2 separate regions of the Homo sapiens genome follow, and region 2 is linked to region 1. The links come from fine-mapping of genetic effects on gene expression. A gene starts in region 1. The other region holds a variant in brackets. All regions are shown on one strand. Distances are from middle to middle. Region 1 holds the start of ZNF471 (zinc finger protein 471). Region 2 overlaps ZFP28 (ZFP28 zinc finger protein).

Evidence for each region. PIP is the estimated chance that this variant, and not a neighbour inherited with it, causes the effect. A credible set is the group of variants that fine-mapping cannot tell apart.
Region 2: its variant is the best candidate, but not a certain one, in a credible set for the expression of ZNF471 in whole blood (TOPMed, PIP 0.84).

The regions. Positions count from the first base shown.
Region 1 is chr19:56,505,168-56,510,544 of GRCh38, forward strand. ZNF471 (zinc finger protein 471) reads left to right here and starts at 2,688. Exons shown (of 5, transcript NM_020813.4): 1 at 2,688-2,753.
Region 2 is chr19:56,546,293-56,551,669 of GRCh38, forward strand. ZFP28 (ZFP28 zinc finger protein) reads left to right here. Exons shown (of 8, transcript NM_020828.2): 3 at 1,216-1,342; 4 at 1,515-1,610; 5 at 2,666-2,829; 6 at 3,775-3,889; 7 at 4,218-4,313. ZNF470-DT (ZNF470 divergent transcript) reads right to left here. Exons shown (of 2, transcript XM_047439806.1): 2 at 1-979. Among named protein-coding and RNA genes, the nearest start is that of ZFP28, 10 kb to the left of the region's middle. RefSeq lists an enhancer at 992-2,191. The variant C/T (reference allele first, on the strand shown) is at 2,656.

The DNA.
Region 1 (5,377 bases):
GTCAACTCTCACCTGAAGTTCCAAAAGTTGAGAATATCATATTCTGTCCCAGAAATTAATTTGTAATCCAAATTCACCTGGTCACCAACACTGTTGTTAAATTTGATATTCTTCAGAAAGGAGTTAAGCTTAAAAATAGTGCACTGTTACAGGATGGAAAGAGTTCTGAATTTGGAAAGAAGAAACTTGAATTAGAGTAATACCTTTGAAACTTATTAGATGTGTGGCTTTGGAAAAAGTCCCTTATTGTTTAAATCTTCAACTGTAAAGTTAGTTATTCAATTTTATTTTTACAAGAATTATGTGAGATAATACCTTTGATGGCCCATGAACAAAAATGTGGTATATATAAAGTAAAAATTAGATAAAGAAAACATTATATATGTAATGTAATGATAATTTAATATATAGTATGATAATGGAAATACCCCTTACTTCCTTGGTGGGATGAATGAGGACAGAAGAATCAAAATAATCTCTTGTTATTGGTTGAATTTTGTCTGCCCCAAATTTTGCATGTTGAAGTCCTAACTCCCAGTACCTCAGAATGTGACTGTATTTGGATATAGGATTTTTACAGAGTTAATTAAGTTGAAATGAGGTCGTTAGGGTGGGTCCTAATGCAATCTGACTAGTCTCACCATGTCTCCATGGGTTTTCTCTGGGTACTCCAGATTCCTCCCACATCCCAAAGATGTGCACAGTAAGTTAACTGGTATGTCTAAGTTGTCCCAGTCTGAGTGAGTGTGGGTGTGTAGTAGGCTACACAATCTAGGTTTGTGTAAGTACACTCTATGATGTTTGCACAACAAGGTTCTTAGGAAATTGCCTAAGAACCCATTTCTCAGAATGTATCTCCATCCTTTAGCGATGTAGACTGTATTTCCATACTGTAAATAGTCCCCTTGTGGTGGATTTCAATCTACCAATATGACATCACTGAATGTGGAGTTAGAAAGAAAGGTACAGTTCATGGCTCTCAGTTCCTACAGCTCTTTTAATTTCCTAAATGACTGCAGCAATAAAGTATCTTTTGTTAAAATATCTGGCCTTTTGTTCCTGGTTCCTGAAAAAGCTCCAGAACAGCTCCAGAGCCATAAAGGTGAAAGACAGTATTTCAACCACACATGAGTTTATGTTAATGAGGTGATTTTTGGAAACTCTCAAGATAATCCCAATATTTGGGGGGAGTGGTGGCTAGTTGCCAGAGGAACCAGCCATGTGCTCAGAGGACTGGAACTCACAGCTCCACCCTCTACTTCTGGGAAAAGAGAGAGCCTGAAAATTAAGTTGATCGCCAGTGGCCAATGATTTAATCAATCACATCTACATAATGAAACCTTGAAAACCGAAAAGGCCTGAGTTCAAGCGGCTTCCAAGAAGGTAGACAAAAACACATCCTCGTGCTGGGAGGGTGGTGCACCCCAACTCCACGGGCACAGAAGTTCCTGCACTAGGGATTCTCTCGGACCTTGCCCTACATGTCTCTTCATCTGGCTATTTGTATCCTTTAAAATATCTTTTATAATAAACCAGTAAACATAAGTGTTTCCTTGAGTTCTGTGAGCTGCTCTAGCAAACTAATGGAACCCAAGGAGCCGGCTGTGGGAGCCCCAATTTATAGCACATCTCTCTGAAACACAGGTACAACAATCTGGAGTTTGGAATTGGCATGGGAAGTGGGGGACAGTCTTTTGGGACTGAGCTGTCTAACCTGTAGGATCTGATGTTTTCCAGGTAGCGTCAGAATTGAATTGGAGTAGCGGTCACCTGGCTGGTGTCTGCTGCAGACAGGTTTTTTTGACATGTTAAGACATTATAAGAGACAATAGAAAAAATGTATACGATACAACCTTCTCTGAGTTATATTTCTCCATAGCCCTTTTTACTGTTCATCAGACTGTTTATCTAACTCATGAATTTGTGGCTTGTCTCTCTCCGCTTCAAAGTAAATTACATAATAAGAGGACAGGGATTTTTTTTTCTCTGCTGTATCCCCCTGAATTGCTTTTCCTTATTTGTCTCACCTTCCAATACTAATTCTACAGTTCTCCTAGTCAGGGCTAGTCCCCTAAAACGGGGACCATTTCCATTTTGTTAAGGGGCTGAACGCGGTTCAAGCCTAGCAGATTGGTTCCAAAAACGTCGTGTTATTCACTGCCTCTGATCAGTGACATTCCCATTTGCAGCTGAAAGAGGTATTAATTCGCCAGAGTCACAACACGGTCGGGGTTCCTCGTCGCTGTCTTATTCCAAAATAAGCTTAACACAGAAAGATAATGACACTCCCACGGACTGGCACAGAAGGCCGCGCTCCGAATGACATCGCGATCACAGAGGCACAGACAGCGTCACAAAGCCCCACGCGTACTCACACCGAAGGCTCAGCCGTCGCGCGTTTCCCTCCCAGGCCCCAGGAACTAGTAACTAGGGACGCTTCTGGTCTCTAGGCGAGGAGAGGGGGAGAGCGCAATCTTTGCGCCTGCGCACACTCCTGCTCTTACCCGCCGGAACCCTGGGCCACGCCCGGCTCGCGTAATCACGCACTGCGCAGGCACCGCCCGCTCTGCTCTAAGGTCCCTCTCACTCCTTCAGCAGCCCGAGGACAATCCCCTCAACACTAGGCCACGCCTTGTCTCCGCCCCTCTCGTCCGACCCCTGGAGAGAGGCTGGCGCCTGCGCGATGGGGGGTTCCAGCGTCGACTCACGGAGTCCTTCGGATGAGAGCGTCTGGGTGCCAGACGAGGCCGGGGGTTTGTTTTGGGTGGTTTGGGAGTCCGAGCTCGAGGGCTGGGCCAGGAAGGGCAGGCGAGGCGGGCGGCTCCGACGCGGGTCGCGAAGGCCCAGCCGCGTCCTCTGTCCCCAGGACGACTACATTTCCCAGAGGCCAGCGGGGCGCGCGTACTCGAGTCTGCGGGGCGGAGGCCGCGGCTCGGGGCTGCTGGGCGTTCGGGGCGGCTTGGGGCGGCGGGACCACTGGAGTGAGCTGTGGGAGAGATGGGGGTGTGCCTGTGTGTAAAAGATCTGTCAGAGTGTGAGGCTCCGTGAGAGGGTGTGGTTTCTGTGTGTGTGTGTGTGTGTGTGTGACAGACCGAGAGTCCAGTGTGAGACCAGGGTATGTTCGTGTGTGACAGAGCGAGACGGGCCAGTGTGAGAGACCAGTGAGTGTGAGAGAGATAGGGATGTGCCTGCATTTGAAAGAGAGCGTGTGAAGCTCAGTGAGAGGTTGCGAGGTGTGTGGGTGTGTAAGTGTGTAACAGACCAGGTGTCCAGAGCGTGAGACCAGGATGTATTCGTGTGAGAGAGTGAGACGGGCTGGATGGAGTGTGAGAGACCAGTGAGTGTGAGAGATGGGCGTGTGCCTGTGTGTGAAAGGCCGGTCGGTCGGTGGGTGAGGCTCAATGAGAGGCCGGTGTGTGTTCGAGAGAGAGAAGAATCACCATGTATGCGAGACTAGACTGTGCAAGAACAGAGTGTGAGACTGTGGTATGTTAATGTGTGAAAGGGAGACCAGTGAGTGTGAGAAATGGGTGTTTTGGGTGAAAGACCCGTCAGTGTGTGAGGCCGTGTTATGTGTGTCTGACAGACTGAGAGAGACCAGAGTGTGAGACCAGGGTGTGTTCGTGTGTGAGAGACAACATAGCGTGAGACCAGTGAGTGTGAGAGAGATGAGCACGTGGCTGTGTGTGAAAGACCAGTCATTATGTGAGGCTCCTTGAGAGGCTGGTGTGTGTGTATGAGAGAGAGAAAGAGACTAAACTGTGAGAGTCCAAAGAGTGAGACTAGGTTATGTTGTTATGAGTTTGTGAGAGAGAGGGAGGCGATCAAAGTATAGGACAAAGTTATGTTTCCTGGCTTACGACTTCTAAGATCCTTGGAATCTCCAAAGTATTAAGTGTCTTTTTGCATGCTAATGATTGGTGGGCTGGCAGCCTGTAGGTTGATCACGGTAAGGGATGGTCACAAGAACAATCTAGGCAGGATTAGAGGGTTGGGATTACCTGCCCCATCCCTCAATCTCCAGGGAAAGGAAAGGGAGCCACAGGTTAAACTGATCATCAGTGGTCAGTGATTTAACCAGTCATGCCTACATTATGAAGCTTCCATAAAAACCCAAAAGGACTGGGTTCATCAAACTTCCAGATAGCTGAACACTGGAGGTTCCTGTAGGATGAGCCCCTTCCTATATAACCTTGTCCTATGCATTTCTTCACCTGCATCCTTTGTAATATCCTTTATTACTACAAACGTGTTTCCCTAAGTTCTGTGAGCTGCCCTAGCAAATTAATTGAACGCAAGGAGGGGGTCATAGGAACCCCGATTTATAGCTAGTCAGAAGCACAAGTAAAACAACCTGGGGTTTGCAACTGGCATTGGAAGTGGGGAGCAATTTTGTAGGGCTGAGCCCTCAACCTGTGGGATCTTATGCTGTCTCCAGGTAGATAGTGTCAGAATTGGGTTGCCCTAGAGGTCACCCACCTGGTATTCACTGGGTTGCCCTAGAGGTCACCCACCTGGTATTCACTGAAGAACTTATTGCTTGCCTGGTGTGTGTGTGTGTGTGTGTGTGTGTGTGTGTGTGTGTGTAGATCCCCACACATCTGGTCTTAGAACTGTTTTGTGTTGTGTGAGTGGAGTAGGAGAAACAGTTTGTTTTTCCTCTTTGTCACCTGAGTGTGTTATCAGGGACTGGATTGTGAGAATCCAGAGTGTGAGACCAGGGTATATCAATGTGTGAGAGAAATAGATGTGCCTGTGTGAAAGATGAACAAGTATGAGGCTCCCTGGAGTCTGAGAAAGATCATGTGTGTGTCTGAGTAAAAGCAAGAGACTAGACTGAGAGTTCAGTGATTGGGAGAGACTGGGGTATGTTGGTGTGAGTGTGTGAGAGACCAATGGGTATGTGAGAGACTAGAGTATGTCTCTGTCTGGACTGGTAGGTTGTGAGAGGGTGTATCACAGTATGAAAAAGATTGGAGTGAGAGTGACCAGTATGTATTTTGTGTGCATGAGATAAAGCAGTTGGAATATGAGAGATCAGAGTGTGTTTGTGTATCTGTGTGAGACACTGGAGCATTTGAGTAACTGAGGCCTCTTTGAAAGATACCATTGAATGTGTATGTATGAGAGACCATCATGTTTATATGTGTGAAAGAGGGAGAGAAAGACTAGTGATGTGGTTGTGTGAGAGACCAAAATGGGTGAGAAAGAAACTATGTGAACCATGGTGTGTTATCCAAAAGGCTTTACAAATATAACCTCTGTGAGGTTGTGAAGCATGCATGTGTGAGTGAGACAGAGATAAGGGACAGTGAGCTGTGTGTGTGAGAGAAGTAAGATTGGGGGTATGTGTGAAGGTGTTGGTGAATCACCACGT
Region 2 (5,377 bases), 41 kb after region 1:
CCTTCTGTTAGCCACAGGTTCCTGGGATTAGAGTTGCAACTGAATAGATGTTTAAAATACATTGGAACGTATCAGAGTTGTAGGCTGAATTTGTAAAACTATGCTCCATAAAAATCTGCCAGCAGGAGCTGAGCAGCCCCATCTTGCCAGTTGGTCAAGAAAATCCTGCTCATGCCAAGCTGTTAGCAAATGTGCTCCTGATAGCTCCTCATAATGCCTAGCTTCTCCAAGATGGCACCTTGGTTCGTAAAGGCATTTCATTAATTAAAAACATTATAGTGCTTTTTGTTTTTCATTCTTATTACATATTCATTTTAGAAAAAAAAATTGCTAGATTTTTTTTTAATGACCTCTACTGAACACTGAGAGTAAAAATAGAAATTCTTAGAACCCAGTTTAGTCATGAATAATATTGATGCTTTGAGGTTCATCTCAAGTTTATTGCCCAGTTCTTGTGCTGCTTCAGGCCACTCACATGTCCCCATGTTGGACAGTGCTGTAGTACCTGTTGTGCATAGAACAAGTTAGTCTTTGTTATTTATAGTTTTGAATTGATGTCAGGGGTTTTTCTTGTGGCTGCCTCCTTTCACCTCCACAAAACTGCAAGTTCTCCAAAGTCAGGGGCTGTCTCCATATTTTTCTCTTTTACCTGGAGTTTAAGACAGAATGAGGCTAGCTGTACAATACCTAACTAGATCTCCACAGTTCTGAGTTTATAGTCTCTTACTCAAAATGAAGACAAGGAATCTTTAGATCCCTATATTAGTTTGTTAGGGCTGCCAGAACAAATACCACAGAATGGGTGTCTTAAACAACAGAAATTTCTTTTCTCAAGCTTCTGGAGGCTGGAAGTCCAAGATCAAGGTGCCTGCAGGTTTGGTTTCACCTGAGGCCTCTCTCCTTGGCTTGCAGACGGCCGTCTTCTCTCTGTGTCCTCACGTGGTCTTTTCCCTGTGCCTGCACACCGTGGTATCTCTTCCTGTTTTAATAAGGACACCAGACAGATTGGGTTAGGGCCCCACCCATATGACCTCATTTAACCCTAATTACCTCTTTGTAGGCCCTGTCTCTAAATACAGTCACATTCAAAAGTACTGGGGATTAGGAGTTTAATGTAGGAGTTTTGTCAGGGGACACATTTCTTTCTATAACAAACCCCCAGTCATGTGGGGGCATGAGCACTGGTTGAGCAAGAACATGGTTATATCATTTCAGGGCTTGGTGACATTTGGGGATGTGGCTGTAGATTTCTCCCAAGAGGAGTGGGAGTGGCTGAACCCCATTCAGAGGAACTTGTACAGGAAGGTGATGTTGGAGAACTACAGGAACCTGGCATCGCTGGGTAAGGGCTCCCACCCCTTTTCCCACCCCTCACCCTACCCACGTCCTGGACTAAGAAGCCTTTCATGCCTTTATCACCCAGACCTGCACTGCCCTCTTGCGTCAAGCCAAGGGGACTGCATCTCAGTCTGGACAGCCACACAGTATGACCAGGTTGTTTTTTATGTGTCTAGGACTTTGTGTTTCTAAGCCCGATGTGATCTCCTCGTTGGAACAAGGAAAAGAGCCTTGGACAGTGAAGCGAAAGATGACAAGAGCCTGGTGCCCAGGTGAGTGTGGGAGAACCAGGTAGGGTGAGGCCACTGCTGGTCATAGTTCAGCTGACTCAGACACGCAACATCTTCAGCAGACTCTTCCTAAGCCTCTTGCTTAGGAATATCTGTTATTTTTACTATTTGGGAATACAGAAATTTCAACTACAGTATTATTTCCAGAACAGCAAATTATTAAGACAAGGAATTAGAATTATAGATTTCTTTCAGAGGTTTTATCCTAACAGGAAATGGTTACAGTTTCTAAAGCATTGGGAATCTTACAAGGTTTCTTTGTTCAATTCACACTTCAAAGGAAACGCTTGCATTGACAACAGGACAAGTTACTGACAGTTATAAATTAAAGTGACTCACATGGGTCATCATATAGCATAAGAGAACAAGAATGTGTGAAAGTTTCCAATTTAACATCATATGAAATCACATACTTTGAGCTAGTTTAATGAGATAGAACTGTTTTTTCTTCCTGCAGATCATTCATCTCTTCTTGAGACTAGTTAATTGTGAAGACTTACATTTTTAAGGCCAGGATCTGGACTTTTATTAGTTAGCATCGTAATAAAAAAAAAGGAGGTATGTAGAGATAGAGATGAAATTTTTTCTAGATGAAATGGACAAGGAGTGAAAAAGAGTTGACTTAAAGCTGAAATAAGGATCATATGGCAGTTTTCTTCTATAGCCTCCACTTTCTCTTTATATTAGACATTTTATTTTACATTTAAGTCTTTGTGAGCTCCCTTATCTCTTGATTTTTAATTGCTTTTTCCAGTCTTCTGCTAAAAACATAATGTGAACTCTTATTCAACTTTTAGGTGGGAAAGGTCTTATTGTGGCCTTTAGGACTATGGCTACACAAATTTAGGAATGTAGGGTTGGTTGAATATTGCTAGTAATATAAGAAAGCTTTCAAAATGATATGCTTTTCATTTTCTTCCATAAAAATAAATGACTATATGCTTTTTTGTGGCTTTTAATTTAACGGTTGCATTTTGGAATTTTTCTTCATACTAACACATGATAAAAGATAAATTTACCTTCTTTA[C/T]GTCTTTCAGACTTGAAGGCTGTGTGGAAGATCAAGGAGTTACCTCTCAAGAAGGACTTCTGCGAAGGAAAGCTATCCCAGGCAGTGATAACAGAGAGACTCACAAGCTATAATCTGGAGTACTCTCTGTTAGGGGAACACTGGGATTATGATGCTCTGTTTGAGACACAGCCGGTAAGTCACAAGACAAATTTCAGGCAAGAGGAAGGATCCTTCATGAGGAAACTCTTCTTGAGGGAAGAGACCATGACTACAACAACTATAAGAGAAGTTTTCATTTGAATACAATGCTTCTTATAGACAGATTATCCCCTCAGAACAGAGAGTGCCTAATCTCCATACACATAAGAACAGTGGAGGGGGAAATTGAGTTGTAATGAATTACAAACAAATCTGTCAAGGTCAGAAATGTTTGACTTGTGATGAATGTAAGAAAGCTTTGAGCAGAGGCCAGGCGCGGTGGCTCACGCCTGTAATCCCAGCACTTTGGGAGGCCGAGGCGGGTGGATCACAAGGTCAGGAGATCGAGACCATCCTAGCTAACATTGTGAAACCCTGTCTCTACTAAAAATACAAAAAATTAGCCGGGCGTGCTGGCGGGCGCCTGTAGTCCCAGCTACTCAGGAGGCTGAGGCAGGAGAATGGCATGAACCCGGGAGGCGGAGCTTGCAGTGAGCCGAGATCGCGCCACTGCACTCCAGCCTGGGTGACAGAGCAAGACTCCGTCTCAAAAAAAAAAAGCTTTGAGCAGAATATCAACCCCTCCTTTTCATCAAAGATTTCATACAAGAGAAAAACTCTGTGGACTTGTTGAATAATTTGTATGAATATGGGAAAGCCTTCCGTCTGTTAAAAGGTTCATACTGTGTGTAAGTTCATACTGTGTGTAAGTATGACAAACTCTCCATAGCAGAAAGTTTCTCCTATTTTTCTGTGTTTTTCCCCAAACATGTATGCTATAACTAAGCCCTGTCATTATTTGACCTGGTGTACCAGAACTTAAGTTGCAGTTCTTGGTATGGAGTGCCTTTTTTGCAGTGTGGACACAGTCCATCCCACTGAGACCAGGTGAGTTCACGAACATGGTTTGATTTAAAAAACGTGCTTTTACCATTGCAGGGCTTGGTGACTATCAAAAACCTGGCTGTTGACTTCCGCCAGCAGCTACACCCAGCTCAGAAGAATTTCTGTAAGAATGGGATATGGGAGAACAACAGTGACCTGGGATCAGCAGGTAAGGATGTCCCTCTCCCATATTTGAATCTATCGTCGGGTACCTCCATTTCCAAACTTCAGTTTTGAATTATGGAGGAGGGAGGGGGTGTCTTCTGACATGCTGGCCTGAATTTTGTGGATTCCTAAGATAAGAATTTGGCATTTGTAGAGGTGAAAGTTGGTGTCTTTGTTAGGCTTGAAGCGTTATCTTCTTGTGTCTTTCAGATCCTACTCACCTGTTTTTCTGTTTCTTTCAGCAGTAACACTTTTCTATCAACAAGGAAGTGGTTCTCAATTTTAGGATGCCAAGACTATTGGCCAAACCTCATCTCTTTTCACTTTTTCAGGACATTGTGTGGCTAAGCCAGATTTAGTCTCTTTACTAGAGCAAGAGAAGGAGCCCTGGATGGTGAAGCGAGAGCTGACAGGAAGCCTGTTCTCAGGTGAGTGCAGGAGAGCCTGGTGTGGAAAATCTACTGCAAGAGAGAGCGGAGCTTTTACCAAAAAGGCTGCATCCTCACTAATATACAGTAGGAAACTTTACCCAGGGTCTCTGGGTCTGGAAAGAAAATTGAACTCTGGGAGTTCCAAATAATTCTTTCCTCCTCCTTTGCCCCCTTCTCTCCAGTAACTGCCATTTCCCTGAAGTTCCTTCTTTTCTTGGCCACTGGGACGTGTATCATCCACTTGCTTCCTTAAATGATCTTTTCTGGACCCTGATGCACTTTTGAGCTGACTTCCAAAGGTTTTCTCTTCTGTGGTTAAATGGCCTATTGTTTTCATCATGCATCCATTCCTGTGAGAACCACAAATTGAAAGTTATGGGATTGAGCCACTCTGCTGAGTATTGGCAGGCGATTGGAAAAAGGGAGAATTACACATAAATGTAAGCCATCAGTGAATTACTCTAATGGAAAGGATAAGACATGTTTATGGATAGCTTGCATGAAGTAGAGTTTGCAGAATTTCAAATAGGGCATTATAGAGACAAAGGAGATGTTGTTCCCAGTGGTGTCTATGTTTTAGTAGGACAGGTGGGTAGAAGTTGAATTGCAAGAAGGTGGAAGTAAAGGATCTTTTCCTCTTGATGCACAAGGGAAAGAAAGGAAATTTCCATAGAAAATAATGGTTTGTAGAAAATGTAATTGTTTACTGTTTGGCAAAAGAATATAAAACCGTGACGTTATCACAACATACACCTTAGATCCATTTAAGTCAGGATAAACACACATTTTTTCACATAGTAGAAATTACAGTGTATATTCAGTTACGCATACACGTTTTTCATGTGGATTCCACGTTGTATATACCATTGCTCACTTAGGTTGCTTTACATTTCTTAGTATTAAAGATACAATTATAATAGATTTTTTTCAAGTTAAGTGAAAACTACACATTTTGGGGATTGCTGTATTCCTGGATATGAGCACCTGCTAGGCTCTGAAAGTTTTTTTGTTTTTGGTGACTAGCAACAATTAGATGTATGAGTTTAATTGCATCTTGAAAG